2 separate regions of the Homo sapiens genome follow, and region 2 is linked to region 1. The links come from fine-mapping of genetic effects on gene expression. A gene starts in region 1. The other region holds a variant in brackets. All regions are shown on one strand. Distances are from middle to middle. Region 1 holds the start of DNMT1 (DNA methyltransferase 1). Region 2 overlaps DNMT1 (DNA methyltransferase 1).

Region 1 (4,383 bases):
TGTTGCTCAGGCTGGTCTAAAACTACCGGGCTCAAGTGATCTGCCTACCCGGGCCTCCCAAAGTGCAGGGATCACAAGCATGAACCACCATGCCTGGCTGTAATTTTTCATATATTCCGGATATTAACCCTTTACCAGATAATACAGTTTGCAAACTTTTTTTTTCCCCATTCTGTAGGTTGCCTTTTCACTGTTGGTCATTTCTTTTGCTGTATAGCTATCCTTAAGTTTGTTGCAAACCCATTTGTCTATCTTTTGTCTTGTTGCCTGTGTTTTGCTGTCATATCCAAGAAATCATTGCCAAATCCATTGTCATGAAGCTTTTCCCCATGTTTTCTTCTAGGAGCACTATAGTTTCAGGTCTTATGTTTAATCTTTAATAAGTTTTGTGTTTTTGTATATGGTGTAAGGTAAGGGTCCAACTTCATTCTTTTGTATGTGGTTATACAGTTTTCTCAGCACCATTTGTTAAAGACACAATCTTTCCCCCATGTTCTGGTGCTTTAAAAAAAAAAAAAATTCTGGCTGGTTACGGTGGCTTAGGCCTATAATCCCAGCACTTTGGGAGGCTGAGGCAAGTGGACTGCTTGAGGCTAGGAGTCCCAGACTAGCCTGGCCAACATGGTGAAACCCTGTCTCTACCACCGAAGATACAAAAATTAGCCAGGCGTGGTGGAGTACGCCTGTAATCCCAGCCTACTAGGGAGGCTGAGGCATGAGAATCGCTTGAACCTGGGAGGCAGAGGTTGCAGTGAGCCAAGATCTCACCACTGCACGCCAGCCGGGGTGACAGAGTGAGGCAGGGTCTTACCCTGTCGCCCAGGCAGGAGTCCAGTGGCCCAATCATGGCTCATTGCAGCCTACACTGCCAGGGTTCAAGCCATCCTCCCACCTCAGCCTCCCAAGTAGCTAGGATTACAGGTGTGTGTCACCATGCCCAGCAAATCTTTGTATTTTTTGTAGAGATGGGGTATCCCTATGTTGCTCAGGCTGGTCTTGAACTCCTAACCTCAAGCGATCCTCCCACCTGGGCCTCTCAAAGCACTGGGATTACAGGCGTGAGCCACTGCGCCTGACATGGTGCTTCTTAATTTATTCTTACTTTTTATTTTTATTTTTTTGAGACAAGGTCTTGCTCTGTCTCCCAGGCTGGAATGTAGTGGTACAATCATGGCTCACTGCAACCTCTGCCTCTCCGGTTCAAGTGATCTTCCTGCCTCAACCTCTGGAGTAGTTTGGACTATGGGCACATGCCACAACGACTAGCTAATTTTTGTTTTTCTTTTTTTCTTTCTTTCTTTCTTTCTTTTTTTTTTTTTTTGAGATGCAGTTTCTCTATGTTACCTAGGCTGGTCTAAAACTCCTGGGCTCAAGCGATCCTCCCACCCTGGCCTCCCAAAGTGCTGGGATGACAGGCGTGAGCCACGTGGTGCTTAAAAAAGGCAACAAAAAACCCCCCACACACTGGGTATAGAAGTGGCATGGGCCTCTATACACTGTGAGATTCTTGGTACTAGCTACAAATTCTGTGTATACTCAAGATTTTCTAGAGTAGGTGCAATTACCCCGTTTTACAGATGAGGACACAGAGGCTGAGCCGTAGTGACCCACCTAAGGTCGTATAGCCAGCAAATAGATGGAGGTTGGATTGGAACTGAGGACTTTACTCAAGGGCTCTCACAAACCCTTGGGGGCTTCTCGCTGCTTTATCCCCATCACACCTGAAAGAATGAATGAATGAATGCCTCGGGCACCGTGCCCACCTCCCAGCAAACCGTGGAGCTTGGACGAGCCCACTGCTCCGCGTGGGGGGGGTGTGTGCCCGCCTTGCGCATGCGTGTTCCCTGGGCATGGCCGGCTCCGTTCCATCCTTCTGCACAGGGTATCGCCTCTCTCCGTTTGGTACATCCCCTCCTCCCCCACGCCCGGACTGGGGTGGTAGACGCCGCCTCCGCTCATCGCCCCTCCCCATCGGTTTCCGCGCGAAAAGCCGGGGCGCCTGCGCTGCCGCCGCCGCGTCTGCTGAAGCCTCCGAGATGCCGGCGCGTACCGCCCCAGCCCGGGTGCCCACACTGGCCGTCCCGGCCATCTCGCTGCCCGACGATGTCCGCAGGCGGTAGGTACCATGGGGGGGAACACGGACTCAGGGGGACAGGCAGGGCGCTGGGTGGGGGGTCGCTTCCCCTCGGGGTGGCCGGTGGCCGCTGCTGACAGACGGGCGCGCATGCGTGGGGTGGTGCGGCGCGCAGCGGCAGTTGGCGCGGGCAGGGTGGCACTTCCGGTCGCGCGTGCCCGGGCTGTTTGGCGCCAAAATGGACCGTGGATTCCCCCGTAGCTCCCTGGTGGCTAGAAACTAGGCGGGGTGGGGGTTCTCTTTTGATCCCCAAATACAGCAAGCTTTGGGTTCGTTTCCGGGGTCCCCTTCTTCAAGCAGCGGTGGGCCGGGCTCTTGACTCCAGCTTGGTCGCACAGGAAGTGGGCAGCCCGCGGCCAACGGACACCCCTCGGGCACCGGCACTTCGGCCTCCACTTCCGGTGTCCGGCCCGGTCCCCGGGGGCGCTTCTGTGGTGGGGGGTCCCTCAGTGCCTTTCCCCCAAAGCTGTGCATCTCGATGGCGGCCTCCAGAGACGGATGTCACCCGTCGGGGCCTGGGCTGGGCTGGCTCATGTTCGAGAGCCCAGCCTTCCGTGGGGTACTCATTCTGTCAGTTGGGACTGTGTGGTTCTTGCTCCTTGGGAAAGTCCATGTTTTGGCAGGAACTTTAACCGTGCATTGCAGCGCAGGGCCCGGGAAGCGTGAAGGCTGCATGGTTGGTCTTTTCCTGTAAATCTGTGCCTGTGAGCCGTGGGCATCAGGGAAGTCTTGCTAATGAGAACTGGCTACACTTTCGTGTGTGTTTGTGTGTGTTCATGGGTGTGTTCTTTAGTGTGTGTCTAATGTTGGAGGCCCTGGCTTTAGCAGTTCATGCCTCTGTCCAACTTCCGTGCACAAGGATCAGTGGGAGCACTGGTCCCAGCCCCTTGTTCATGAACGCCATCAGTTCATTCCTGAAAACTTGTTCAAGTGAGGTGTGCGTGAGTCAGAGGAACCCTCACCAGGCGTGGACACTTCCAGCTGGATTTGTGAAAGCACTCTTTGCCATTTTTCTATTTCCTTAGGCTTGTTAACTGACCTGGTTGGGCCAGTCCGGTTCTGATTTGGGTCTTTGGGGAGGGATGGATATTTGGTTCAACCCCCGCTTTTTTTCTTTTCTTTTTTTTTTTTTTTTTGAAGGCTGGGTGCTGTGGCTTATGCCTGTAATCCCAGCAATTTGGGAGGCAGTGGCGGACGAATCTCTTGAGCCAGGAGTTTGAGACCAGCCTGGGCAACAAGGCAAAACCCCATGTCTACTAAAAATACAAAAATTAGCCTGGAGTAGTGCCGTGCGCCTGTGGTCCCAACTACTCAACAGACTAAGGTGGGAGTATCACTTGAGCCCCAGAGGTTGAGGCTGTGTGTAGCGAGCTGAGATCGCGCTATTGCACTCCAGCCTGGGTGACAGAGTGAGACCCTGTCTCAAAAAAAGAAACACTTTTTATTTTTAGAGATGGGTCTCACTCTGTTGTCCAGGCTGGAGTGCCCTGGCACAATTATAACTCACTGTAGCCTTGAACTCCTGGGCTTAAGGGATCCTCAGCCTCCTGAGTAGCTGGGACCACAGGCGCCCACCACCATGCCCAGATGACTTTCTTAGTTTTTGTTTCTGTATACGTGAGGTTTCACCATATTGCCCAGGCTGGTCTTAAACCCCTGCCCTCAAGCAGTCCTCCTGCCTTTGTGTCCCAAAGGTTAGGATTACAAGTATGAGCCATCATGCCTTAACTACTACTTTTTTTTGTTTGTTTGTTTGAGATGGAGTCTCATTCTTTCACCCAGGCTGGAATGCGGTGGCGTGATCTCGGCTCACTGCAACCTCCACTTTCAGGGTTCAAGTGATTCTCCTGCCTCAGCCTCCGAAGTAGCTGGGATTACAGGTGCACACCACCACGCCTGGCTAATTTTTGTGTTTTCAGTGGAGTCGGGGTTTCTCCATGTTGGTCAGGCTGGTCTCGAACTCCTGACCTCGTGATCCACCTGCCTCAGCCTCCCAAAGTGCTGGGATTATAGTCAAACCACTTCTTAACCAGTTAGTGGGTATATATCTTCTTGAATCATCTGTGCCAGTATTCTCCCAAAATAAAACTTGATTTAAAATGGAATGGAAGTGAAATTATGAAAGTGCCTGGCTTCATGATGTTACACCCAATTCAGAGAAGTTTGGGCCCGGCCTTCCTTTTTTATTCCTTTTTTTTATTTTGTAGAGATGGGGTCTTGCCATGTTGCTCAGGCTGGTCTTCGATTCC
Region 2 (4,383 bases), 23 kb after region 1:
AGCTGGGCGTGGTGGAATGTGCCTTTAATCCCAGCTACTCAGGAGGCTGAGTCAGAAGGATTGCTTGAACCCAGGAGGTAGAGGCTGCAGTGATCTGAGATCATTCCACTGCACTCCAGCCTGAGTGACAGAGCAAGACTCCATCTCAAAAAAAAAAAAAAAAGTTTAAAAAGAAGAACTTTATCGTGTGTTTCCATGGCAACCATATCGTTATGAAGTATCTGAATTTGGGGTCAGATCATTAGCGTTTAGATTCAAGTAGAATTCTCCTGTTTTCTTGGAAGGAATGAATCGAGGGCAGCTGGCATTCGAACCAGGTGTAAAAGTCATATCAAATACTAAATGTTAAATGAGTATGTGTCTGTCAGGGCTCCTGAGATAATGAAGATTGCTTTTGGGGGAAAGAGGAGCTTTATGAAAACTGCTTCTTTGGGGAAGCTCCTGGCACTCACACTTGGGGTCTGTGTTATTTTGCTTGACAGAGTTGCTAGACCGCTTCCTGCAGAAGAACCTGAAAGAGCAAAATCAGGAACGCGCACTGAAAAGGAAGAAGAAAGAGATGAAAAAGTAAAGCTCTATCACCTCTAAGTTTGTTAATTCTCCCTTAATCCTATATGGTCCCAATTTCCTTCCAGGACGTGGGGACAGGGGGTGGGGAACGTGGAAGAACAAGATGGGTTTTGCTAGTGATCGAAATGCCTTTGACTTTGGCTAAACACCTTTCAAACTTGTTTTCTCGTGGTCTCTACATGAAAGGTGGGTTATGAGATTGTGATAGTGAGGACCCTTGCTACTTATTTGTGATATTTTATTTTATTTTATTTATTTATTTATTTTTGAGACAGTCTCCCACTCTGTCACCCAGGCTGGAATGAGTACAGAGGTGCGATCTCGGCTCGTTGCAACCTCTGCCTCCCAGGTTCAAGTGATTCTCATGTCCCAGCCTCTTGAGTCACTGGGACTACAGGCGCCCGCCGCCATACTCGGCTAATTTTAGTGGAGATGGGGTTTCACTGTGTTGGCCAGGCTGATCTTGAACTCCTGACCTCGAGTGATCCACCTGCCTCAGCCACCAAAGTGCTAGGATTACAGGCATGAGCCACCACACCGGCCAACCTATGCCACTTAATCAACTAGTCACAGAGCTTCAGTTTGTCACCTCGCCTTCTTGCTTCTCTGGCTGATGAGATCTTTGTGAAGATCTAATTTTCAGACGTACGAGGTGCTAAAACTTTTTTTTTTTTTTTTTTTGAGATGGAGTCTTGCTCTGTTGCCCAGGCTGGAATGCAGTGGTGTGATCTTGTCTCACCGCAACCTCTGCCTCCCGGGTTCTTGTGCCTCAGCCTCCTGAGTAGCTGGGATTACAGGTGCCTGCCACCACAGCCAGATAATTTTGTATTTTTAGTAAAGATGGGGTTTCTCCATGTTGATCAGGCTGGTCTTGAACTCCCAATCTCAGGTGATCCACCTGCCTTGGCCTCCCAAAGTGCTGGGATTATAGGCGTGAGCCACCACACCCGGCCTAAAATACTTTTCAAACTTATTTTTTTGTAGTTCTCTACATGGAAGGTGGGTTATGAGGTTGTCATAGCGAGGATCTTTGCTACTTATTTGTGGTATTTATTTAATTTAATTTAATTTTTTTTTTTTGAGACAGTCTCCCGCTCTATCACCCAGGCTGGAGTGCAGAGGTGCGATCTTGGCTCATTGCAACCTCCGCCTCCCAGGTTCAAGTAATTCTCATGTCCCAGCCTCCCAACTAGCTGGGGCTACAGGCGCCTGCCACCACACCTGGCTAATTTTTGTGTTTTTATTTATTTATTTATTTATTTATTTATTTATTTATTTATTT[G/ATTTG]AGACGGAGTCTCGCTCTGTCGCCCAGGCTGAAGTGCAGTGGCTTGATCTCCGCTCACTGCAAGCTCCACCTCCTGGGTTCACACCATTCTCCTGCCTCAGCCTCCCGAGTAGCTGGGACCACAGGCGCCTGCCACCATGCCCGGCTAATTTTTTGTATTTTTAGTAGAGAAGGGGTTTCACCACGTTAGCCAGGATGGTCTTGATCTCCTGACCTCGTGATCCTCCCATCTCGGCCTCCCAAAGTGCTGGGATTACAGGCGTGAACCACCGCGCCTAGCCAATTTTTGTGTTTTTAGTAGAGACGGGGTTTCACCATGTTGGCCAGGCTGGTCTCAAACTGCTGACCTCGAACGGTCCACCTGCCTCAGCCATCAAAGTGCTGGGATTACAGGCACGAGCCACCACACCGGCCAACCTATGCTACTTAAATCAACTAGTCAGTTTCAGTCTGTCACCTCAGCCACCTTCTCTGGCTGACGAGATCTTGGTGAAGATCTAATTTTCAGATGTAGGAGGTGCTAAAATTCTTTAGCATCATCCAGACATAAAGTTGTATTCTCCTCTCTGAAGTCAGACCAGCTCTTTCCCCAGTCCCTCATCTTCTTTGTAAAATCTGAGTCTAAGGTTCTATGCAATACAGATGCTGGGTCCTGTTTTTTTTTCTGTTTGTTTTGTTTTTTAATAAGATGACTGAGGGCCGGGTGTGGTGGCTCATGCCTGTAATTCTAGCATTTTGGGAGGCCGAGGTGGGTGGATCGCTTGAGCTCAGGAGTTCAGGGCCAGCCTGGGCAATGTAGTGAGACCCCGTCTCTGCAAAAAATACAAAAATCAGCTGGATGTGGTGGAGCTTACAACAGGCAGTGTGCCTGTAGTTCCAGCTTCTCAGGAGGCTGAGGCAGGAAGATCACTTGAGCTCAGGAGGCTGAGGATACAGTGAGCCATGATTGTCCCACTGCAATCCAGCCTGGATGATAAAGTGAGACTGGTCTTAAAACAAACAAACAAACAAACAAAACAAACAAACAAAAAAAAACCAAGATGACTAGAAGTTTCTTACCAACTTAGGTAGGTGACGAGTGCCTTACTTGGGAGCTTAGTAAAGGATGGCTGTCCATTGGGGAATCAACTAAAATGTACAGTAATTTTTTTTGTTTTTTGAGACGGAGTTTTGTTCTACTTGCCCAGGCTGCAGTGCAGTGGTGTGATCTCGGCTCACTGCAACCTCTGTCTCCTGCGTTCAAACAAATTCTCCTGCCTTAGCCTCCCGAGTAGCTGGGATTACAGGCTTCCGCTACCACGCCCAGCTAATTAACTTTTTGTACTTTTAGTAGAGACAGGGGTTCACCATGTTGGCTAGGCTGGTCTCGAACTCCTGACCCCAGGTGATCCACCCGCCTCGGCCTCCCAAAGTGCTGGGATTACAGGCGTGAGCCACTGCATCCGGCCGCTGTACAATAATTTTTGAACCATTCAGTACTTGAGGTTGGTCTTTCTTGCTTTTTTTCTTTTTTTTTAATTGAGATGGAATTTTGCTCTTTCGCTCAGGCTGGAGTGAAGTGGCGCAATTTTAGCTCACTACAACCTCCACCCCCTGGGTTCCAGCGATTCTCCTGCCTCAGCCTCTCCAGTAGCTGGGATTATAGGCGCCCGCCACCCCGTCCGCCTAATTTTTGTATTTTTAGTAGAGACAGGGTTTTGCCGTGTTGGCCAGGTTGGTCTGGAACTCCTGACCTCAGGTGATCCACCCACCTCAGCCTCCCAAAGTCCAGGATTACAGGGGTGAAACACCACGCCCGGCCGAGGCTGGTCTTTCATTGATCACCTTTCCTACCCTGATCCTAGTTAAATTAGACAGCAGTTGCAGTCAGTGCATACCTCGAATTTGTTTCAGAACAAGCAGTCCTAACGGGCTAGTTCAACCACCACCTTCCAAAGAAGGAACCTGGGGCAAGATCGAAATCCCTCACCTGTAAGCATACTCTCAGGATTTCTTCTTGTAGTAGGAAGATTTGCTAAGCGTTTTTTTTATTTTTATTTGAGACGGAGTCTCACTCTGTCGCCCAGGCTGGAGTGCAGTGGTGCGATCTCCGCTCACTTCAAGCTCCGCTTCCCAGGTTCACGCCATTCTCCTGCCTCAGCCTCCCGAGTAACTGGGACTACAGGCACCTGCTACCACGCCAGGCTAATTTTTTTTTGTATTTTTAGTAGAGACGGGGTTATTTATTTATTTACTTATTTATTTTTTGAGACGGAATCTCGCTCTTGTCGCCCAGGCTGGAGTGCAGTGGCACGATCTCGGTTCACTGCAAGCTCTGCCTCCCAAGTTCACGCCATTCTCCTGCCTCCACCTCCCCAGTAGCTGGGACTGCAGGCGCCCGCCAACACGCCCGGCTAATTTTTTTTTTTTTTTTTTTTTGTATTTTTAGTAGAGACGGGGTTTCACTGTGTTAGCCAGGATGGTCTCGATCTCCTGACCTCGTGATCTGCCCATCTCGGCCTCCCAAAGTGCTGGGATTACAGTAGTGAGCC

The links. PIP is the estimated chance that this variant, and not a neighbour inherited with it, causes the effect.
Region 2: its variant is the best candidate, but not a certain one, in a credible set for the expression of DNMT1 in whole blood (INTERVAL, PIP 0.63).

The regions. Positions count from the first base shown.
Region 1 is chr19:10,192,553-10,196,935 of GRCh38, reverse strand. It overlaps DNMT1 (DNA methyltransferase 1), which reads left to right and starts at 1,983. Exons shown (of 41, transcript NM_001130823.3): 1 at 1,983-2,116. The coding sequence starts at 2,037. RefSeq lists an enhancer at 1,550-1,779 and a silencer at 2,040-2,279.
Region 2 is chr19:10,169,274-10,173,656 of GRCh38, reverse strand. It overlaps DNMT1 (DNA methyltransferase 1), which reads left to right. Exons shown (of 41, transcript NM_001130823.3): 9 at 483-567. Among named protein-coding and RNA genes, the nearest start is that of DNMT1, 23 kb to the left of the region's middle. The variant G/ATTTG (reference allele first, on the strand shown) is at 1,853.